Linked DNA regions of Homo sapiens. The protein of the gene in region 4 purifies or fractionates together with the protein of the main gene of each other region. This does not show direct contact. Each region holds a gene or a part of one and is shown on either strand. Other genes may lie near its edges. The genes, in order: SACM1L, SCAMP1, ALG11, CSPG5, HS2ST1, CDS1 and TNFRSF10B.

What was found.
Region 1: the proteins of CSPG5 (region 4) and SACM1L purify together in Homo sapiens (affinity purification with mass spectrometry; one large-scale study listed by BioGRID and IntAct). This does not show direct contact.
Region 2: the proteins of CSPG5 (region 4) and SCAMP1 purify together in Homo sapiens (affinity purification with mass spectrometry; one large-scale study listed by BioGRID and IntAct). This does not show direct contact.
Region 3: the proteins of CSPG5 (region 4) and ALG11 purify together in Homo sapiens (affinity purification with mass spectrometry; one large-scale study listed by BioGRID and IntAct). This does not show direct contact.
Region 5: the proteins of CSPG5 (region 4) and HS2ST1 purify together in Homo sapiens (affinity purification with mass spectrometry; one large-scale study listed by BioGRID and IntAct). This does not show direct contact.
Region 6: the proteins of CSPG5 (region 4) and CDS1 purify together in Homo sapiens (affinity purification with mass spectrometry; one large-scale study listed by BioGRID and IntAct). This does not show direct contact.
Region 7: the proteins of CSPG5 (region 4) and TNFRSF10B purify together in Homo sapiens (affinity purification with mass spectrometry; one large-scale study listed by BioGRID and IntAct). This does not show direct contact.

What each region holds. Positions count from the first base shown.
Region 1 is NC_000003.12:45,741,396-45,743,652, forward strand, and holds part of SACM1L (phosphatidylinositol-3-phosphatase SAC1), read left to right. Parts: intron 1-2,137; coding exon 2,138-2,257.
Region 2 is NC_000005.10:78,367,117-78,370,616, forward strand, and holds part of SCAMP1 (secretory carrier-associated membrane protein 1), read left to right. Parts: intron 1-3,500. UniProt on the Homo sapiens protein: Functions in post-Golgi recycling pathways. Acts as a recycling carrier to the cell surface.
Region 3 is NC_000013.11:52,018,898-52,022,397, forward strand, and holds part of ALG11 (GDP-Man:Man(3)GlcNAc(2)-PP-Dol alpha-1,2-mannosyltransferase), read left to right. Parts: intron 1-15; coding exon 16-246; intron 247-3,500. UniProt on the Homo sapiens protein: GDP-Man:Man(3)GlcNAc(2)-PP-Dol alpha-1,2-mannosyltransferase that operates in the biosynthetic pathway of dolichol-linked oligosaccharides, the glycan precursors employed in protein asparagine (N)-glycosylation.
Region 4 is NC_000003.12:47,568,866-47,572,365, reverse strand, and holds part of CSPG5 (chondroitin sulfate proteoglycan 5 isoform 1 precursor), read left to right. Parts: intron 1-3,138; coding exon 3,139-3,214; coding exon of another isoform or gene 3,215-3,295; intron 3,296-3,500. UniProt on the Homo sapiens protein: May function as a growth and differentiation factor involved in neuritogenesis. May induce ERBB3 activation.
Region 5 is NC_000001.11:86,917,635-86,921,134, forward strand, and holds part of HS2ST1 (heparan sulfate 2-O-sulfotransferase 1), read left to right. Parts: intron 1-3,500. UniProt on the Homo sapiens protein: Catalyzes the transfer of a sulfo group from 3'-phospho-5'-adenylyl sulfate (PAPS) to the 2-OH position of iduronic acid (IdoA) or glucuronic acid (GlcA) within the heparan sulfate (HS) chain and participates in HS biosynthesis.
Region 6 is NC_000004.12:84,635,127-84,638,626, forward strand, and holds part of CDS1 (phosphatidate cytidylyltransferase 1), read left to right. Parts: intron 1-137; coding exon 138-225; intron 226-3,500. UniProt on the Homo sapiens protein: Catalyzes the conversion of phosphatidic acid (PA) to CDP-diacylglycerol (CDP-DAG), an essential intermediate in the synthesis of phosphatidylglycerol, cardiolipin and phosphatidylinositol.
Region 7 is NC_000008.11:23,059,032-23,062,531, forward strand, and holds part of TNFRSF10B (tumor necrosis factor receptor superfamily member 10B isoform 1 precursor), read right to left. Parts: intron 1-3,500. UniProt on the Homo sapiens protein: Receptor for the cytotoxic ligand TNFSF10/TRAIL. The adapter molecule FADD recruits caspase-8 to the activated receptor.

The DNA.
Region 1 (2,257 bases), 1.8 Mb from region 4:
GTATTTCTTTTTGGATGGTAATGATTTGCATACTTGTTTGTTTTTTTCACTGGATCAGCAACTTTTTGAAGGTAAAGACTGTGTCTTACTCATTGTTTTATCTCCTTTGTCCAGGATATAGTGAGCCCTCAGTAAATGTTTGCTGAATTAAGGACTCACTCCACCACCACCACTAATTCTGTCACCTTTTTGATAGGGAGGCTCAGTTACCTGTTCATCTCTGTATTCCCCTCAGTGCTCAGCCCTGTAGACAGTCGTGACATAGTTTTAACTAAATGCTGAAATGTTGAGTAGGGGGAAAGAAAGAGCCATCTTATTATTATTATAGTTAGCAAAATTTTTCTGTAAAGAGCCAGGTAGTAAATATTTTTGTCTTTATGGATGGCTGTACATTCTTTGTTTTTGTGTTTATAACCATTTAAAAATGTAAAAAGCATTCTTACCTTACAATACAAAAACAGGTTGAAGCACAGGTATTGCCTGGGACATGACTGCAGGTTTTAGGGCAGGAAGGAAGAGGCAGCATGTGCCGGTTCCTCAGCGGCCAGCCCTGCTTTCATTTCCTCTCTGGGTCCTCTGCCTTCTTTCCTGAAAACACTGCCCAGCGCATGCCATTTTTGGGGAGCCACTCTACTGTTAAATTAGTTCATTTTGTTGTTGTGACTATACCCACATTTACTTAAAGAACCTCTGGAGAGGCAGGAAAGTCAAGACCAAGAACTCTGCTTGAATGAAACGGATGATTCCTTTAGGGAGTGTCCAGCAGAGTGGCTAACAAGGAACTGCCCTTCTTCTTTTGTCCAAGAAGAATTTTAAACTTCAGAGCCATGAAAATGAGCAATTATGCAAATTCGAGTATATTTTGAGTAAAAAGAGATTGGATGCTGTGGATGGTAACTTCTCATGTCAGTTTATTCTTATGATAAACTTTGTGATGTTTGGTTATGGTAATATCTGATTTCTAGCTCCTGCTGTGGTTTTCAAAGAGAATAGAAAACAAATGTAGCATGATCTCTGAGGGCTTGTTAGGAAGGAGTCTGGATGCTAGTTTCTTCCGTGGTGTGCTCACTGGCTGTCATTCCCTGTATGTATTTCTCCTTCTGCAAATGAGGCCAGTAGTGTTGCAGAGAGAGAAGCTATTCTCTAGGTTCAGCTATTCAAGGAGTAAAACAAAGTAGATCTTTGCCCACCGGCTTGCTGCTAACCTTTATGAACTTCGGACTTTGGAAAATGCATATCAGCAGAGTTGGGTTAAATATGTCATTAAAATAGGTTATTGGCTGGGTGCTGTGGTGTGTGCCTATAGTCCCAGCTACTCAGGAGGCTGAAGTGGGAGGATCACTTGAGCCCAGGAGTTCTGGTCTGTAGTGTGTTATGCTGATCGGATGTCCGCACTAAGTTCAGCATCAATATGGTGACCTCTTTGAGCAGGAGATCACCAGGTTGCCTAAGGAATGGTGAACTAGTACAGGTTGGAAACAGCAGGACAAAACTTTCATGCTGATCAGTAGTGGAATGGTGCTTGTGAATAGCCACTGCACTCTAGCCTGGGCAACACAGCAAGACCCCATCTCTAAAGAAAATGTTATTGACTTTTGTTTTATATATTTGTGTATATGCAAAAAATACTCTACAAAATATACATAACTTCAGAAAAGTTATGTATAACTTATGTTTGGTATTTATGAATATTCTATTAATTTTTTGTGCAGGTGTTTTGACAATAGCTCATATCTGTTATAGAACTATGAATTAAACTTAATAGTTATTTGTATTATTAAAATATACTAAAAGTGATCATTATTATTTGTATAATATAATATGAAATCATTTAGTCCAGTGGTTCTCAAAGTGTAGCCTCTTGATCGGTAGCATCAGCATCACCTGGGTACTAGGAACTTGCTAGAATGCAGATTCCTGGGGCCCAACAGTTGATGCTTTATCAAGCCCTGCAGAAGATTCTGGTACTAGCCAGGGTTTGAGAACCACTGGTTTAAACCTTAATTAAGAGGTTCTTATATTTTTCCTGTGAATGTGCTAGTAAACTTTAATGTTGCCAAAATGTGCTAAACAGCTGAAAACTGGGTCTGATATCAACAAACGACTTATTTAGCTTTTTGTTTCTTAATATCAACAGGTGACACTTGGACAGAAACACTGGCCTATGTGCTCTTCTGGGGAGTTGCAAGCATTGGAACATTTTTTATCATTCTTTACAATGGCAAAGATTTTGTCGATGCTCCCAGACTGGTCCAGA
Region 2 (3,500 bases), on a different chromosome or scaffold from region 4:
GCATGAATTCCTGCTCATTTTTCCTCATGTTAATGTTTTTAAAAAGCACATATTGAGCTGCTGTTATATTTCATCAACTTAAGATGCCATCCTTTGTAAGATGCACCATTATCTTATTTACCACTGTCTCACTTATCTGTTGCTATGTAACAATCCCAAAATATAATGGCTTAAAATAACAATTATTTGCTCACGATTCTGTTAATTGCGCTAGACTTAGCTGGGCAGGTTTTTTCTTTTTTTTAATGTTCTTTTCTGGAGTCACTAAAGTGGCTTCAGTCACCTGGTTTATGGTTTCAGATATCCTTACTCAAGTGCCTGCTGGTTACCTGGAGATGTCAGTGGGCACAGCAATTAGCTGTCTTTCATGTAGCCTCTCTACTAGTAATAAATGGGCTTTGTGCATAGTAGCAGCAGTGCTCCCAGAGGGCAAGAGCTGAATCTACAAGGCTTCTTGAATCATATGCTACTTCTGCTGTATTCTGTTGGTCAAAACAAGGCACAAGTTCAGCCTAGATTTTAAAAGGAGTGGCAAGCAATAGGCTCCACTTCTTGACTGGAGACAGACCTATGATCTGAAGATACACCTAGTATAAAATGGCGAGGTAGTCGTAGGATAACTTCACTAGACACTCCCATTCAAATAGGGAAAGAGTGGGAGGCGTGTAGCACCTGCTGATGCATAGCAGTTCTGAAATCTAGCCAGGCACGTGTTGTTAGGGTCCCCTACATTGGGGACAATGAATGTTTCTTGATTAGGGCCCAGTTCTGCTACCTCGTATTGGTTCCTTCACCTGTTATTTTCTTCTGCTTTTGGCTCCACCCTCTGAGAGGTCCTTTATTTATTTTTTTCTATAAGAATGAGCCCTTTTGGCAGCTGAGTAGCATTTTTGGCCTGCTTCTTGCCCATTGAAAATTGGGAGCCCAGAAGTTTCTATTAATTTTGAACTGTTTCTTTAGTCCAGGCTGTCACAACTCTCTTAACAGTTTCTTTTTAATCTTACCAGAGTTCAAACCATGCCTTAAAAACCACATTTGTCATTCTTTTTGAGACAATCTTCATTTAGGGTGAAGTGTCCGTTGCCATGGTCGGTATTCTTCAGATGTTTAGAAAACTTTTGTCTAGGTTGAGCATCTCATATGGCCAGGGGAAGGCTGCTGCCATAGGAGGCTGCTGTGCCACGTGACAAAACTAAGATTTGAACACAGTTTTATTTTGGCCCTGTAGCTTTACAGTCATATGAGATGATGGTGATTATGAAAATTTCGAAAGTAAACTGTTCTTGTGCTGATATTACCAAAAGTTTTTTTTGGACTATGATTAATATTTAATAGTGATAAATGCAGATCCAAATAATTTATTGGTTATTTCCTTAATATGAACCACCAGTGTGATATAGTTGCTGAAAAATATATATTGGCTTAGTGAAATTAGTGATCAGTTCCTTAAAATTAATAATCCTATAGTATTCTGTTCTGGTCTAATAGCTGGGTATTCTTCTCAATTGCAAGTGCATATTTAAAGAGTGGTTTGAAAATACTAGGATATGCCCAAAGAGGACAGTCAGAATGGTCATGGGACTGGAATCAAGTTCTAGGAAGAACAATTTAAGTTTCAATTACTCAGTGGATTTAGTCTACAGAGGGCTAAAGGGAAATAGGAGAGCTCCCATCAGATACTTAAAGTGTTCTTAGGTAAGTGAATAAACTTGTTATTTGTTGCTTTAGAAAAAGAATCTAAGGTTAACTGGCAAAGTTTACTTGAAGGTAAAGGTAAATTTTGTCCAAACAGACTTTTAAAAATCTGCTACCATGGCCTGACAATGCTCTTTTGGTAGGGCATTCTCCAGCACTTGCAGAAATTCAAGCAGAAGTTGGATAACCTACAGAGATGCCTAATTTCAATATTGTAATGTCTCAGGGAATAGGGAGACCCAAGGAGAGGGACAGAGAATGGGAACAACTGGTTGGTGGAATAGTCAGGACACACAATTTTTTTTTTTTTTTTGAGACAGGGTCTCTCTCTGTCTCCAAGGCTGGAGTGCAGTGGCGTGATCTCGGCTCACTGCAACCTCCACCACGCAGGTTCAAGCGATTTTCCTGCCTTAGCCTCCCGAGTAGCTGGGACTATAGGCGTGCACCGCCACACCTGGTTACTTTTTGTATTTTTAGTAGAGACGGGGTTTCACCATGTTGGCCAGGCTGGTCTCCAACTCCTGACCTCAGGTGATCTGCCTGCCTTGGCCTCCCAAAGTGCTGGGATTACAAGCGTGAGTCATCGTGCCCGGCCAGGACACATAACATTTATCAAGTAAGTTTGCAGTGTTATGGGCATGGTTTGTGGCACCCCAAGACAATTACAGTAGTAACATCAAGTATCACTGATCACAGATCACCATAGCAGACATAATGATAATGAAAAAGTTTGCAATATTGCGAATACTACCGTAGTGTGACGCTAGAGATGTGAAGTGAGCACATGCTGTTGGGAAAATGGTGCTGCGAGACTTGCTTGATGCAGGGTTGCCACAAACCTTCAATTTATTTTTTTAAAAAAGGCAATATCTGTGAAGTACAGTGAAACTAGGTATTCCTGCATTTTCTCTGTTCTAATATATCGACCATATTGGATATTGGAATTAAGTATGATCAGTTCAGCTAGAGAGGATGCTTTATGTTCAGAGACCAGCTATGCTCTGAGCCTCAGCTTCTGCTGAGGGAGCAGCCCTCATGGTAGCTTACACATTTGTGATCATGTCCTCTAGGGTGTGACTTTTGCCACCCTGGCCTCAGCTGACTGATCTTAACAAAGGTACTTGTCCAAAGCAGTGGAATAGCAGTTATCTCACTAGGCTTTTGAAGGCCATTTTCAAGAATTCCTGTCCTTCATTAGAGGTGTTTTTTAACTAGAAGGGATGTGCCATGTCATGAAGAATTTCAATCTCTGTGAAACCTGGCGTTCTTCTTTCTGTATATATCTTTAAAATATTCTCCTGCTCCCAGCATTTGGGGTGACCTGAGTGAGTCTGTCTGTTTCAACCAGAATTGCTAAACCGTAAGTGTAAAGTAACATTTTCTTGCCAAAAGGGTGATAGAGTTAAGCCTGTATTTAGACCTACAGTTTTTGGTGGTGTAGTGGAGTAATATACTTGCAAATATTGTAAGATGTTTTTAAATCACAAGGGAGAATTTTCCAACTTTCAGTGGGTGTGGGATATAAAAGGTGACATGGAGTTTGGTTAGATTTAACCTTGTAACAAGTCTCTGAGTTGTTCCTACTGAGGCAGTCTGTAATGTCCTGCAGCGTTTGACTTCATATGTGTAGACTGGTGTGGAAAACCCTGTTCTCCTTTCTGTGCAGAAGGCTTGCAGATCTATACCCAGAGAGCAATCCAGTAATCCCCTTCTCCTTGGCATTTGGCTTTGGGTGCTTTTCAGAATTAGTAATGTTTCTTTATCCATTGCTGGACACCTAAGTTGTTTCTGTTTTTTGTCTATTA
Region 3 (3,500 bases), on a different chromosome or scaffold from region 4:
GTCCTCTTATTTCAGGTTTTTTTATTCATTATTCTTCCCTGGGCTCATTGTATGTGGAACTTTATGTGTGTGTTTGGTCATTGTCCTTTGGGGAATCAGACTGCTGCTACAGAGAAAGAAAAAATTAGTGTCAACTAGCAAAAATGGGAAAAATCAAATGGTGATTGCATTTTTTCATCCATACTGCAATGCTGGTGGAGGAGGAGAAAGAGTTTTATGGTGTGCTTTAAGAGCCCTGCAGAAAAAGTAGGTATCCATCTTTCTTAGCTAATTTGCTATATTGTTCCATTTCTTAAAAATTATTATCCAGAAATTCATCTTTTTTTTTTTTTTTTTTTTTTTGAGACAGAGTCTTACTCTGTCACCCAGGCTGGAGTGCAGTGGCACGATGTCGGCTCACTGCAAGCTCCGCCTCCCAGGTTCATGCCATTCTCCTGCCTCGGCCTCCCGAGTAGCTGGGACTACAGGTGCCCGCCACCACGTCCGGCTAATTTTTTGTATTTTTAGTAGAGACAGGGTTTCACCATGTTAGCCAGGATGGTCTCGATCTGCTGACCTTGTGATCCGCCCACCTCGGCCTTCCAAAGTGTTGGTATTACAGGTGTGAGCCACCGTGCCCGGCCTCATCTTTCTAAAGTACCTAAAGTAAAAAATGAATTCCTTTTTAAACTGTTCTTCAATAAGAAAATATTTCTTTCATGTGCCCACATACCTTATATGATCTTATTTGACTTTAGTTACTATGATAAAGAAATAGACAAACCCAGGCATGGTGGCTCACACCAGTAATCCCAGTACTTTGTGAAGCCGTGGCAGGTGAATCACTTGAGCCCAAGAGTTTGAGACCAGCCTGGGCACCATGGCGAAACCCTGTCTCTACAAAAAATTATCTGGGCATGGTGATGCGCACCAGCTTCTCCAGAGGCTGAGGTGGAAAGATTGACTGAGCCTGGGAAGTCAAAGCTACAGTGAGCCATGATTGTGCACTGACTGCACTCCAGCCTGGGTGACAGAGTGAGAACCCGTCTCAAGGGAAAACAAAAAAGAAAGAAAGAAATGGACAGTGGATGGGGAAAACATCTGCCCTTTTATGGCATAAATTAATGGGAATAACTGGTCCCCTTGGGAGAGCATATACAGAAGAGATTAAGTAATTGACAGAAATATACCAAGTATGTCAGAGCACTTTAAGCCTGAATACTTTCAGGCAGTTGTGGCACACAGGAATAATCTTTATGAAAGTATCTATTTGACTCAAATTTTTATATCATTACCAGCTGGATAGTCTCAACTTACCATGTTAGAAGGAATATGGTGTTATACATCTTTTAATATTTGAGGCTTCGTCATCACCACCCCCCATACCCCCAAAATATTTATGATTCTCTTTTAGAAAGGAAAAAGCATAGTAGGTTCCATTATTTTATCATATGAGGAAAACTGTTACTCTTCATGGTTACCCTACTTCCTGGTACACACCCTTCATTCAGTGCCAAGGCCTTCACACAGAATTACCTCAGCTATACTTTTCTGTAATCCTGGCCCATCCTAGCTTCCAGGCCCTACCCCTGTATTTGCTCTGCCATCTTCTGTAACTGCCTAAATACAAAGAATTCTCATAATTCCCAACTCCGTGATGCTTTTCCTACTCTCGTTGATAATACTTTTTTCTTCTCTAACCAGATTATCTACCTCTTGATGGCGGTGGTAAAGTTTCATGATATCTGTACACATAGTCCCCAGCAGCCTCTATTACTCCTAACCCATCTACAAGGAGAAAAAAACCAAATCATTAATATGACTTGGAAGATACTTTTTCATCTTGCTCTGGCCACATTGCGTTTCTCATCCCTCCCCATTCCTTCACAGGTACTTTACTCTGACATGCAGAACAAGGAGCAGCTCCCTGAACACATCATGCTCTCTCTCGAGTCCTTCCCTTTCTATATAGTGTTCTTTTCTTCTGAAATAACCTTTTTCTCCCCAGTTAATTTCTACAAGCCTTTCCTAACTCAACACATACTACAGTGCACTTTTCATTCGACCTAGCAGTATTTATTGGGGACCTGCTATGTGTCAGGCACTGTTCTGGGGGTTGAGATTAAGAGAACAAGATCGATCAAGTCCTTCTCTCCTGGACGTTTGATTTTAGTTGAGAGAGACAAGATAATAAGCAAAGAAGAAAAATATCAAATAGTGAGACGTGCTATATAAAAAGTTAAAATAGGGTAATATAGGAGTGACTTGATACTTTAGATAGAGTGATCAGGGAAATATCTGATAACAATCAAAATCTGAATGACAAAAACAGCTGCATTCACTGCGTGATGATTGTATGTTAGGTATTGTTTGAAGTGCTTTACATGTGTTAGCTCACTTGATCCTCAGAACAGCCTTTTGCAGTTGTTACCATTATCCTCATTTGACAAAGAAGAAAACTGGGGCACTAGAGCCCATGTTCTGAACCACATGCTAAACTGCCTGCCTTATGAAAAGACAGTGAAAATGAGAAAAGAGAATTCAGAGTAGAGAGAACAACCACTGCAAGTCCCCTAAGGCTGGTTGGAGCTTGGCGTGTTAAAAAAAAAGAATGCCAGTTTGGCTGCACCCTGGAGGGCAAAGGAGAGCATGGGAAGGGAGGTGACAGAGGGAGGCAGGTTCCAGATCACACAGGACTTGAGTGAGCAGGGAAATTAGTTTAGATTTTATTCTAAGTGCTATAGTAAACCAGTTTTGGGGTTACTGTTCTGTGACATGGTTTAGGGGCTGCCATGTTTGGTCTCCATCATACTGTTGCAATTAGATGGCAGCTGGGGCTGGAGGCATCTGAAGCCTTTTTCACTCACATTCTGGTTCTTGGGCTGGGATAACTGGACCTGCTGGGGGCTGTCGGGCATCTCTCTCACTGAGGAGCTTCTTCATGTGACTTGGTTGTGCTTGCATACAACATAGCAATCTCGGGCTGGTTGGACTCCGTACATGACAGCTGTCTTCTCCTAGCATGAGCATTCCAGGAGACAGGAAGTAGGAGCTGCCAGTCCCTTAGAGTCTATGTTGGGAAACTGGCACAATGTCACTTTTGCCATATTCTGTTGGTCAAAATAGTCACAGAGCCAGGTGTTATTCCAGGGGAGGGGACTTAGATGCCACCTCTCAGTGAGAAAAGTATCAAAGAATTTGTGGCCCGTCCGGGCACAGTGGCTCACACCTGTAATCCCAGCACTTCAGGAGGCCAAGTCTGGCAGATCACTTGAGGCCAGGAGTTTGAGACCAGCCTGGTTAACATGGCAAAACCCCTTCTCTACTTAAAAAATACAAAAATTAGCTGGGCATGGTGGCACACATCTGTAATCCCAGCTTCTCAGGAGGCTGAGGCACGAAAATCACTTGAACCCGAGAGGTGGAGGCTACAATAAGCCAAGATCACGCCACTGTACTCCCGCCTGGGCGACAGACAGAGCGAGACCCTGTCTTAAAAAAAGAAAGAAAAAACAAATGGA
Region 4 (3,500 bases):
GGTAAGTTACTCAGTCTGCCCACCTGCCTGATAGACCCTTCTTCCCTGGACTGTGACAGCCAGCGGCCAGTGCGAGATTTCATTCATAATTCTGCGTGGAGGAACTCCATCTCCTTCACATCTGTCACCCAAAATCAGCTCCTCCTCGGTGAACACTGAGGAGAAAGGGTTTATTTAGCACCACACTGCATTGCTTTTTGAAAGCTAGTCAAGCCTGTGTCCAATCAGAAGTGCAAGGAACTTAAGAAAATCCTCTTTACCTCTCCTGAGTAGAATATGTGGGGAGAACTAGGGTTAACTTCCTCTACTGTGGATTTTAAGGGCCATACGGGATGTAGAATCTTATTTCAGCTCTTCTCTTGGCAAAGCAGTGACTGTTGTGTGCATGTGAGAATCAACATGTGTTTGCCTTTAAGCCCATGCCTTGAACACTCGGATGTGACCTTATACGCTATGAGAAAATTACTCCTATTACTAAGCAAAGTTAGAAAACCTTTTGGAAGTGTCACAGGAGTCACAAAAGGGAGATTGGAGTTCAGCTTCCTTGGGACCCCAGAGACAATTTATGCAGAACTGCCCCCACTTCCCTTTCAACCTGTTGCCCCATTAATCCCCCTCCCCTTGACCTGAGACTCCCTCTAGAGAATGTGACTGAAGGACTTTCCCTGGGTCCTGGGAAAAGGACAAAACACCATCTGTTGCTCCTTTGCTGGGTAGACTCATGCAATGTACAGATGCCAGCAGCTCTCTGCAGCCTTTCAGCTAACCGCCGCGGGGCTGGTACGGCCTCTCCATTGTGCCTGTGCACTGAGGCGGGCTGCATCTACACACGTGATCACTCCAGAAAGACACAGTCCTGGACCCCTGGCTCCTCACGCCTACACCAAGGGGGTGGGTGAGCAGGGGTATCCAGGGGGCAGGAGATGGGACTGCTTCAATCACAGCAGCTGCTGATGAGGATGGGGGAGAGAAAGGAACAACAGCCAGGGCAGTGGAGAAGCAAGAGCTGAGGCCAGGTGCAGGACCCTATTCTAGGGCCTCTTCCTCTAGCCAGCCCTGTGTTTTTCACAGAGCATGGCCCTCTTGTTTCTCCACATGCCTTCTTTCTTTCCCAAGCCTGGTTACTGCTTTGATGGTGTGACATGTGCCTGGTGCACTGCAGATACTGCCATAATTTATTTATTCTAAAATATACCTTTTTTCCCCACATATTAACATCTCTGAAATTGGATTGTGTCTTACAATCACTGCCATCTTTTTTTTTTTTTTTAATTTAATTGAGACAGGGTCTCACTATGTTACCCAGGGTGGTCTTGAACTCCTGGGCTCAAGTGATCCTTCCACCTCAGCCTCCCAAATAACTGTGACTACAGGAATGCACCACTGTGCCCAGCCACTGGCATCTTATGATCACTGTTGGCCATATGGTAGTTATGATGTAGTTGTAATTCCCTGGCATGCACAAATGGGTTCCTAGCTGTTCATATTGTTGTCAGTCCCTTATCTAAAGTCTAAATGAACTACTTCAAGTATATAAGAAAAGCTCAGCTGGGCACGGTAACTCATGCCTCTAATCCCAGCACTTTGGGAGGCCGAGGCAGGTGGATCACGATGGGTGGATCACGAGGTCAGGAGTTCAAGACCAGCCTGGCCAAGATGGTGAAACCCCGTCTCTACTAAAAATACAAAAAATAGCTGGGCATGGTGGCAGCCACCTGTAATCCCAGCTACTCGGGAGGCTGAGCCAGATAATGCTTGAACCCAGTAGGTGGAGGTTGCGGTGAGCCGAGATTGTGCCACTACACTCCAGCCTGGCCAACAGAGCAAGACTCTGTCTCAAAAAAAAAAAAAGCTCTAGGTGATAAGAAAGTATTGGATGATGGTTTAAGTGGTGGAAGTGTTTTTATTTTTTCTTAATGGTACATCAAATAATGGTGCACCTTATTACAATCCATGGCATTTGGCTGGATGCTGTGACTCATGCCTGTAATCCCAAGACTTTGGGAGGCCAAAGCAGGAATACCACCTGAGCCCAAGGGTTCGAGTCCAGCCTGAGCAACATAGCAAGACCTCATCTTTACAAAAAAAAAAAAAAATTGTTTTAAGATAATCTGGAAGAGGGAAGGGAGAGCATTAGGACAAATAGCTAATGCACGTGGGGCTTAAAACCTAGATGACGGGTTGATAGGTGCAGCCAACTACCATGACACACATATACCTATATAACACACTGACATATTCTGCACTTATATCCCAGAACTTAAAGTAAAATAAAAAAAAAAAGATAATCCATGGCATTTGATGAAATACAGTATTTGACTGGGCGCAGTGGCTCACACCTGTAATCCTAACACTTTGGGAAGGCTGAGGCAAGCAGATTGCTTGAGCTCAGGGGTTCAAGATCAGCCTGGGCAACATGGTCAAACCCCATCTCTACAAAAAATACAAAAATTACCTGGGCATGGTGGCATGCACCTGTAGTCCCAGCTACTTGGGAGGCCGAGGTGGAAAGATCACTTGAGTCCAGGAGGTCAAGGCTGCAGTGAGCTGTGATTGTGCCACTGCACTCAAGCCTGGGCAACAGAGTGAGACCCTGTCTCAAAAAAAAAAAAAAAGAAAAGAATAGAAAAGCCTTTAAAAACCGATAACCAGCACCAGGTACAATTCTGTACTTATCAATAAAATTTAAAATAATTTTTTTAATAAAGAAAGAAATACAGTATTTGTTTTTTGTAGGGATTTTTTGTAATTTTTTTTTTTTTGAGATGGAGTCTCGCTCTGTCAGCCAGGCTGGAGTGCAGTGGCACGATCTTGGCTCCCTGCAACCTCCGCCTCCTGGGTTCAAACAATTCTCCTGCCTCAGCCTCCCAGGTAGCTGGGATTACAGGCGCCTGCCACCACGCCCAGCTAATTTTTGTATTTTTAGTAGAGACGGGGTTTCACCATGTTGGCCAAGCTAATCTGAAACTCCTGACCTCGAGTGATCTGCCCACCATAGCCTCCCAAAGTGCTAGGATTACAGGCGCGAGCCACCACGCCCAGCCGAAATACAGTATTTGATCCAGAAGCTGAGACATTGTCATGTTTTGCCGTGATTATTTCACTTACATGTTTCCTTCACTCTTCTCTCCTAACCAGCAAATTCCGGACCCCATCTGAGCTCCACAATGATAACTTCTCCCTCTCCACCATTGCCGAGGGCTCTCACCCAAATGTAAGGAAACTTTGCAACACTCCCCGTACCTCCTCCCCCCATGCCCGTGCCTTGGCTCACTATGATAACGTTATCTGTCAGGTAACTTGTTTTCTTCACATCTCTCCTCTTATGCATGCTTTGGCCCCTGGCCCATGTCTGATGTCTATTTCAGAATATGAAATCCCCAGAGAGCTCTGGAGGTCAGCCTAGGGCAACTGAGTTGGGCAGCAAAGGTGGGAATAAGCACTTGATGGTGTATCACTTATTTGACAAGCAGAATTTTCGATACAAAAGGTCTTTTTCT
Region 5 (3,500 bases), on a different chromosome or scaffold from region 4:
TGCAACCCAGGTATGTATGATTCCAAATCAAGTGCTCCTTTAATTATGTCCGGCTGCTTAAGACTTTATATTGACATTACGCTGAGATTTAGGTATTTGAATAGAGTTTTAAAATTGTAATATCAGTGTTTAATTGCATTTATTGCTAAGAATGAATATCATTCAGAGAAAATTGAATTTCTGATACAAAGGAATTGGTTTAATGTAACGTCTGCCCCTTGTTTAGATTCATGTAATGAACATAATTATGTTACCCAATGAAACAACTGAATTAGATAGCTTATTTTTACTATAGGAAAGAAAAATCTAGCTGTTTTCCATACGTGCAAAATCACAATGTTAAAAAAGCATTTTTATTTTGGCATAAAAAACCTATTAAACATTTTGTCCTTAAAAGTAGTTATTATCATTTTCATTGTAGAAGATTCCAAAGGATAGTATTGTCTGATAGTGGCTTTAATATACCTTGATTTGAGAGTACAGTATTTTGATGGTGAGACTTCTAATAGAGCAATAGATGTATTCAAAACTGAGGTGTACTCATTGACTACTTGGGAAATTCACTAATTAGGAATTCCTAAAAAAAAAAATTCAGTAATACAGCTTTTTATTTTTATTTTTTAAAAAACAAATATGGCATTGTAGTCCACATATTACAATGCGGCTTGCTTTTTTTGCCTTGAATGTTATACACATCTTTCCAGGTCAGTACATATAGATGTGACTTACTCATTCTATTAATAATAGCTGTATAATATTCCAAAGTATGCATGTATCATAAATTATTAAGCCATTATTCTAGTAACGGACATTCAGTTTGTCCCCCATCTGTCGTGTGTGTGCGTGTGTATATATACATATATATATAATTTTTTTGAGTGTTTCTTTTCTTTCTTGGTATTATAAACAATTATAGGAAACATCCTTATGTGTCCGTTTAACTCATGTTGATGTCATTTTGTGCTAGGATGAATTCTGTATGTGAGATTGCTGGGACAAAGAATATACATATTTTATAATTTAACAGATTTAAAAATCTACTTTTCAACATTTTTTTGTTTTTCAAAAGATGTAGTAATCTACACTGCCAGCACACATTCATTAGCACTAGAAGATAATCAGCTTTTAATTTTTGCCAGTGTGAAGCTGTGAAATGATATATTCAATTAATTTACCTTCTAATTTCTAGGTAGGTTGAACATCTTTACATGTTTATTGCCCTTTTATTTGTTACTTTTTTCTATTTTTCTATTGGGTGGTTTACTTTTTTTTTTAAATATTAGAATTAGTAATCCTTTATCTATCCTATGTCTTTTTTAAATTTTTTTTATTTTTATTTATTTATTTATTTATTTATTTTTTTGAGATGAGCCTTGCTGTCACCCAGGCTGGAGTGCAGTGGCACGATTTCGGCTCACTCCTGCCTCAGCCTCCCAAGTAGCGGGGATTGCAGGTACGTGCCACCACGCCCAGGTAATTTTTGTATTTTTAGTAGAGACAGGGTTTCACCATGTTGGCCAGGCTGGTCTTGAACTCCTGACCTCAAGTGATCTGCCCCCCTCTGCCTTCCAAAATGCTGGGATTACAGGCATGAGCCACTGCACCCGGCCTCTTATTTGTTTTTGTCCAAGTTTGCCATTTGTTTCTTGACTTTATGGTGTGTTTTGCTCATATAGAAGTTTTAAAATACACACAGTTAAATCTATCAATTTAGGGAAGTCGTTTTCATATTTTGCTTAGGAAGACTTACCCAGAGCCAGGATTGTGTACATTTTCTGTATTTTATTATAGTATTTTATAGTTTATTACATTTGGCTCTTTAAACCATTTGTATGTTTACAGAGATTTATCATGATTTTCTCAGTAAATCATTTTTTCCAACTGTATGTTAACATTCCTTCTTTTAATCACATACTAAGTTTTCATATGTTCTTGGATCAATTTTGGATGCTATTTTCCATTAATCAGAGATTCTTTAAACCTCGGGGACCCATAAATAGGCTTCAAGGTATCAGTGAATTCCCTGAAATTATATACATAACTTTCATCAGATTTGCAAAGGAGTATGTGATTCCTTTAATGGCAAGGATCACAGATTTATAGTAGATGTTTCATATTTAGTGGACTTTTTTTTGTTTTTAGTAACATAACGTGCAGATTGTGAGTTAAATTTAGGAGATAAGCTTATTACCTGTGAAAAAGAGAAGTTTTTCAACTTCAAATGAAGTTAATACTTCATTGTATTAAAATGTAGACTTAATTTTCTAGTGAGAAATGGAAAAGGACAGGGAATCCAAATGAAAACTATTTAACTGTGACTCGTTACTATAAAATGTCAGAATTTGTGGCTGGTAAAAAGTAGTTCTTCCCGAATTTCAAGAGCGCACTTGTTGCTAATATTGACTGGTCGAACAGTGCAGTGAAATATTTTCTCACATAAGTGATAGAACTATGTGCTTGGTAACTTTATTTTCTATAGGGTTTTAGCATTGTAAATAATATTTGTTGACTGTATTCTTACATCTCTATATGGATTTATGAGCACATTAGGAATAATCTTTTACATGGGGAAAATAATTGAGAATGGATTATGTAATCATCCATTGGTGAGAATTAATGTTAGTCATTATGTTCTTAAAACTCTACTAGACTAAACAACTAATTCCAGGGCCAAGGTTGAGACTGCTTTTTGGAATTTGGTAGTTTTTACAAGTAAGTTCCTGAAACCATGCAGCAATACCTGTAAGATGTTCCAGAGAATGCTAGATTTCCTCACTTCTGAAATCATTTGGAAAACCTCATAGTAGCTACTGTTTTGAGGACTTTGGGTTAATAGGAATACAGTTATTCTAGAATTGGTAATTGGTGCCTCACTTAGTCTTGAATAGGATGTCTAGTGCCATGGAGTAGTCACCTGAAATAGTTGATCTCAATTAAGATAATTCCAGGATGTCTGTCCACCACTCTGGTAGGCCTTCTAATAGCTTTTTGGCACTTAGAGAAATTGAAATAATAATGAATGTTCAAAGATTGCTCTCCAGAAGACCATTTTTGAAGGATGTACTTATAGATGAACTTCATAATCATGGTTCACTATAGCCTAGTTATTTTTAAGATCTACCCACCTACCAGTACCTGTACTTACGTATTCTGCCTTTCTGCCTGTTAACAATAGATGGTAACTGTCAGTGCTCCTGTTCGGTCATTTGTGCACCTGATTCTGTTGCCTCACTTACCTAAAGACATGGTTCCCGAAGCTTTCCCTCATTCTCCTGTCACAATGTATTCTTGAAAATTGCTAAGAGAGTGGATTTTAAGTGTTTTCACCATACCAAAAAAAAAAGTATGTGAGGTAATGCATGTTGTCTTAATTAGCTTGATTTAGCCATCCATGATATATACATGTTTTAAAACATGTTGTACATGATAAATATATACAGTTTTGTCAATTACAAATAAAAAAAAACTATCTTGGTAAATGTTCCAGGTGAACGTGAAAA
Region 6 (3,500 bases), on a different chromosome or scaffold from region 4:
TTATGTTCTGGGTAGGCTGCAGTGCAATCCAAAGGGTTATTCTGATGGTTCATTATGAATCATAACCTTTCCGAATATCTGCCACTTACTCAGGTGAACTTTTTTCTGCTGACTTTTTTTTTTTTTTTTAAAAACAGGTTCCTTGTTCCAATATCAAGTGTTATCTGCAATGACATAACTGCTTACCTTTTTGGATTTTTTTTTGGGAGAACTCCATTAATTAAGGTAATGGAAAAATTTTATAAGCAAGCCACTATGTAACCTTAAAGATTAGCCACTGGAGAACATTTCCAACAACTGTGCTGTTGTGCATTTTTTATTTTTGAGGTGCTTTGATTTTCCTTAGCTGCATGGTGCAGAAGCAGCAAACCATATTTCTCAGTACTTCCATCTGGGTTCTTCATCAGCTCTTCTGTTGGCTCCTCAGGAAGGGCATGACTCCATCAGTCTGCCTGCCTGCCTGCCTGCCTGCCTGCCTGCCTGCCTGCCTGCCTGCCTGCCTTCCTTCCTTCCTTCCTTCCTTCCTTCCTTCCTTCCTTCCTTCCTTCCTTCCTTCCTTCCTTCCCTCCTTCCCTCCCTCCCTCCCTCCCTCCCTTTTCATCTTCATTTTATCTTTATGTGGTTTCTTTTCTTTCCTTTTTTTTTTTGAAGATGGGGTCTTGCTTTGCCACCCAGGCTGGAGTACAGTGGTGCTACCATGGCTCACTGCAGCTTCCACCTCCCAGGCTCTAGCAATCTTCCCACCTCAGCCTCCCGAGTAGCTGGGGCTTCAGGTGCATGCCACCACACCCGGCTAATTTTTGTATTTTTGGTAGAGACAGAGTCTTGCCATGTTGTTCAGGCTTGTCCCAAACTCCTAGGCTCAAGCAGTCTGCCCATTTCAGCCTCCCAAAGTACTGGGATTAAAGGCGTGAGCCACCGCCCCTGGGCTCTGTGGTTTTTTCTCTCGGCCATTGGTGCAGTTCTTCTTTATCCTCCTTTCCAGCAAGCCTATACACAAGCCTTTTCCTTGACTCTCCTCTCCCTTCAACCTGTCGCCTTACCTGTCCCCTCCTTTACCAAACTTTCTCAAAGAAGAGATTATATAATACACCTTCACATCCTCATATCCATTTGTGTGACTTTTCATATCCAAACTCATACCAAAAGAAGATTTTGGGGCCCTACAATAAAATACTAATAAAATACAAGTAATAATGAAAGGGAAAGGAAAATACACATGAGTAGACCATGTTGTTTTGCTATAGAATTGGTTCTATTTATGGGCAATGGTAAAGAAGGAAATGAACTAAATTACATAGTTCTCATTTGGGAGAAGAAATAAACTAATTCTTCATGGAAATCAAATCATTTTCTAGAACTGATTTCTTCTAAAAGAGCTCTTCTTTATTTTTGTTTAGTTTTTATTCGTTTTTGGAGACAAAGTCTCGCCCTGTCACCCAGTCTGTAGTGCAGTGGCGCAATCTGGGTTCACTGCAACCTCCGCCTCCTGGGTTCAAGTGATTCTCCTGCCTCAGCCTCCCAAGTATCTGGGATTACAGGCGGCTGCCACCATGCCTGGTTAATTTTAGTATTTTTAGTAGAGACAGGGTTTCACCATGTTGGCCAGGCTGGTCTAGAACTCCTGACCTCGAATGATCTACCTACCTCGGCCTCTGAAAGTGCTGGGATTACAGGCGTGAGCCACCACACCCGGCCTAAAAGAGCTTTTCATGTTGGAGTTTCAGATAAGATTCACACATTTCACATTATTGGGCAAAGTTTTTAATAATGTTCTCACAGACATATTATTACCTGGCTGTTTTGATATTGTTATATGAATGCAGTTTTGGAAGGACTGAGACAATTGTTCAGATATAAAGCCTTCTGTTTGTTCAGAGTGGTATGAGGGTAGTTTAGTATTACCAGAGGAATTTGTGGACTGCCTGTTCTTCCAAAAACCTCTGTAAACTCTTCCCCTCTTGGGGAGGAGCTCACAGAGAGCACCTGCTGAAAGCATCAGCACACAGAGAGTGTTGGGCTGAGCTGTATAAGGATACTGGTAAGCAAGCTGTATATTTTTAAAACGTTTCTAAAGCTGCTCCAGAGTTTCTAAAGCTTGAATACATGATTTACGTATTCAAGAGTTCTACCCAGACTGAGAAGTTTTCGGCTTGGGAAGCTGTATTAGTTCATTCTCACACTGCTATAAAGAAATGCCAGAGCTTTAATTGGCTTATGGTTCTGCAAGCTGTACAGGAAGCATGGCTGGGGAGGCCTCAGGAAACTTATGATCTTGGCGGAAGGGGAAGCAGGCACATCTTATATGGTCAGAGCAGGAGGAAGAGGGAGAGTGAGGAGGTGCCACAGACTTTTCAACAACCAGATATCATGAGAACTCATGGGACAGCAATAGGGGGATGGTGCTTAACCATTAGAAACCCCCTCCCTGACCCAGTCACTTCCCACCAGGCCCCACCTCCGACACTGAGGATTACAAGTGGACGTGACATTTGGGTGGAGACACAGATCCAAACCATATCAGAAGCCTTCAAAAAGGCTGTTATAGCTGTGGAAGAATATTAGCAACTGATTTTGAACACAGCCTTCTAGTGAATTTATCAGGCTGGATTAATTGTATAATATACTTAGATAATTGAACAGTTAACCCCTAAATCGATATGATATGCATCAATTTAATTTGATAAGCTATCTTTACAATAATCAGCAGGCACTTTTGAATTTGAGTCTGCTCCTACTTCATGGCAGTGATAGTGAATTACCCTAGGAGAAGGTGTGTCTGTCCCTTCTCTGTGGCAGAATTGTTATCAGATTTGTCAAGAAACCATTTCTGCCAACTGTTTTGGTTTGGGGCTTTATGAATATCAGGACAAGAAGTCTATGAAGAGCTCCTATAGGTTAACCCATAACCCATTTTAATACTTCAGAGACTTTATTCTGATATTTGGTTTCTGTCCCTCATTAATGACCTGATGACCAAATCCTCCCACACATCACAGTCTTTATCTCCCCTGAGCAACAACTTTCACTTTTTGCTCCTGAATCTTTTCCTCCTGCCCCAACACCACTAACTTCTAGATTTTTTTCCAGATTTCTTTCCATGAATGGTCCATTGACTGGGCAGCAATAGCCTGAATCCAACACAAACAATATCTCTTCTTTGAAGTGCAGCATGTTCCTTTCTTCTTGGAAATGGACATAGATTGTGAAAAAAGAGAGGATATGTCAATACTTGAGCAAATACAGTATCTGGGGCTCTGGAGTATTTTGCCATATCAGAAGGAAGTCTGTGTGTATATAGCATATTAGGAATATGTGAAAATTATATGTGCTAAAATGTCCATGTTTTGTTGTACTGATTCTATTTTTGGCCAATAGCAGGTCAATACTGACTGTGTGTACTTGGAATGAATACGTCTCATTCTTATTCCAAGAACTTACACCAACTATTATCAGGTTTTATATTAGCATAAGAGTCATGGGACAGTTATTTTAGTATA
Region 7 (3,500 bases), on a different chromosome or scaffold from region 4:
GCATCCAACATTCTACTGTTGGTTTTTATGAATTTGACTACATTAGGTACCTCAAGTGGAATCCTATTTCATTTGTCCTTTTATGAATGGCATTTTACTGAGCATGTCTTTAATGTTCATCCATTGTGTAGCATGTGCCAGTATTTCCTTCCTTTTCAAGGCTGAGTAATACTCCATTGTATGAATATACCACATTATCTATTGATCTGTCCAACTTGAGTTTCTTCCACTTTTTGGCTATTGTGAATAATACTGCTATAAACGTGGGTGTACAAATATCTGTTTGAAACCATGCTTTCAATTCTTTTGGACGTATACCTAGAAGTGGGAATGATGGATCATCTGCTAATCCTGTTTTTACTTTTGAGGAACTATCATACTGTTTTCCATAGTGGCTGCACCATTTTACATTCCCATTAACAGGGCACGAGGGTTCCAACTTCTCTACAAATTTGCTAATGCTTATTGTGTGTGTGTGTTGTTTTTGTTTTTTGAGACAGAGTCTCGTTCTGTCGCCCAGGCTGGAGTGCAGTGGTGCCATCTCAGCTCACTGCAAGCTCCGCCTCCTGGGTTCACGCCATTCTCCTGCCTCATCCTCCCAAGTAGCTGGGACTACAGGCGCCTGCCACCACGCCGGGCTAATTTTTTTGTATTTTTTTTTTAGTGGAGACGGGGTCTCACCATGTTAGCCAGGATGGTCTCAATCTCCTGACCTCGTGATCCGCCTGCCTTGGCCTCCCAAAGTGTGGGGATTACAGGCATGAGCCACCGCACCCGGCCTGTGTGTGTTTTTTATAATAGTCATCCTGATGGGTATAGGATGGTATCTCTGTCGTTTTGACCAGCAGTTCCCTAATGATTAGTGATTAAAGTATCTTTTCATATACTTATTGACCATTTGTATATTTGCTTTGGAGAAATGTTTATAAAAATCAGTTGCCCATTTTTAACTGGGTTGTTTTTGTTTTGTTAGATCGTAGGAATTCTTTATATATTTTAGATATTAAGCCCTTATCAGATATATAACTTAAAATATTTTCTCTCATTCTGTGGGTTTTGCCTTTTTATCCAGTTAATAGTATCTTTTGATTCACAAGAGTTACTGATTTTCAAGAAGTCCAAAATGTTTATTTTTTCTTTTGTTGCCTATGTCCATGGTGTCACATCCAAGAAATTATTGCCAAATCCAATGTCACAGAATTTTTATCCTATATTTTCTTTCAAGAGTTCTATAGCTTTAGCACTTACATTTACATCTTTTATTTGTTTTTAGCTATTTTTTAAATACAATGTTAGGCTAAGGTTCACTTCATTCTTTTGAATGTGGATATCCGGTTCTCCTAGCCCCCTTCATTGAAAAGACGGCCCTTTCCTCCATTCAACAGTCTTGGCATCCTTGTGAAAAATAATTTGGCCATATATGTGAGTGTTTATTTCTGGCTCCTCTATTCTATTCCACTGATCGATTTATCTGCTTTTATGTCAGTACCATCCTGTTTTGATTACTGCAGCTTTGTAGGAAGTTTTGAAAATCAGGAAGTGTGAATCCTACTACATTTTTATTCATTTTCAAGATTGTTTTGGATATTCTGGTCCCTAGAAATTCCATATGAATTTTAGGATACATTTTTTCATTTCTGCAAAAATGTCCTTGGGATTTTGATAGAGATTACATTGAATGTATAGATCACTTTAGGAAATGTTGACATAATTAGTCTTATAATTCATAATCATGGCATATCTTTCCATTTATTTTTGTATTCTTTAATTACTTTCAGTAATGTTTTATAGTTTTCATTGTACTAGTCTTCCACCTCCTTGGTGAGTTTACTCCTATTTTATTATTTTTGATACTATTGTAAATGGATTTTTTCCTAATTTCTTTTTTTGAATTGTTCATTGGTAGTGTATAGAAATGCAATTGACTTTTCCAGTTGATTTTGTATTCCGCTTCTTTGATGAATTCATTTTAGTACTACTAAATAAAAATTAAAAACACAGTTTAGATATACCCCACGGCAATTACCCATAACCATGTAGCCAAAACTTAAGACATCCTGATATCCCTGAAACATTAGCTATAATCATAAAAAATCCCACAAAATATAAGTTTTACACCTTCATCATGACATAATATGGTTCAGTGAAGTTAAATCAAGCAGCTATAGAAAAATCAGCTTAAACAGCTCTGATTGCCTTTAAAAAGAATATAAATTTATAAGTCAATCATGAAATTGTCAAAATACATCCTCCTTTATAGCCTGTACTATACCTGCTGTAAGGCAAGTTTCTTACCACTTGGTTTGAAATCTCCCAGATTGCAATCTGTACTGTCTTTTACTGAACAACAATAAATTTCAAAATTTTAAAAATTTAATATTATTTTATTTTTGGCAGTTTAATTTTTTGTGAAATCTTTTGGATTTTTTACCAGTAAGATCATATCATCTGAAAACACAGATTATTTTACTTTTTCCTTTACAGTCCAGATGCTCTTATTTCTTTTTCTTGCCTGTTTTGGCTAGAACTTCCAGTACTATGCTGAGTGGCAAAGGTGGGTAGATATCCTTATGTTGTTCTTAATCTTAAAGGAAAAGCTTTCCGTCTTTCAACACTGAGTATGATGTTAGCTGTGGGGTTTTCTTACATGGCTTTTATGATGTTGTGGAAGTTTTCTTCTATTCTTAGTTTGCTGGGTGTTTTCATCATGAAAGGGCTTTGAATTTTATCAGAGGCTTTCCCTGTATCAACTCAGATGATCATGTGTCTTTTTCCCCCTTCATTCTATTAATGCAATGTATTACATTGTTCAGTTTTCATTTGTTCAAACATTCTTGCATTCCGGAAATAAATCCAACTTGGTCATGGTGTATAATCCATCTAAGGTACTGTTGAATTCTCTCTGATAGTATTTTGTTGAAGATTTTTGCATCAGTTAGGGATACTGGGATATAGCTTTATTTTCTTGTAATATCTTTATCTGCTTGGGTATCAGAGCAATGCTGGCCTTACAGAAAGAGTCAAGAAAGGTTCCCTTCTCTTCAAGTTTTTGAAAGAGTTTGAGAAGTAGTGGTATTAGCTCTTCATTAAAAGCTTGTTAGAATTCACTAGTGAATTCTGTCAGTTTAATTAATAGTATTGAAGAATCAATGTTGGTTTTGTGGATTTTCTCTATGGTTTTTCTTTTTTCTTTTTCTTTCTTTCTTTGAGACAGAGTCTCACTCTGTTGCCCAGGCTGGAGTGCAGTGATGTGATCTTGGCTCACTGCAACCTACATCTCCGGGGCTCAAGTGATCCTCCCACCTCAGCCTCCCGAGTAACTGGGATCACAGGTGTGCTCCCCCGGGCCAGGCTGCTTTTTATATTTTTTGTAGAGACAGGGTTTTGCCATATCCAGGCTGGTCTCAAACTCCTGGCTTCAAGCAATCCTCCTGTCTTGGCCTCGCAAAGTGCTGGGATTATAGGCGTGAGCCATCACATCCGGCCTCTACTGTTTTTCT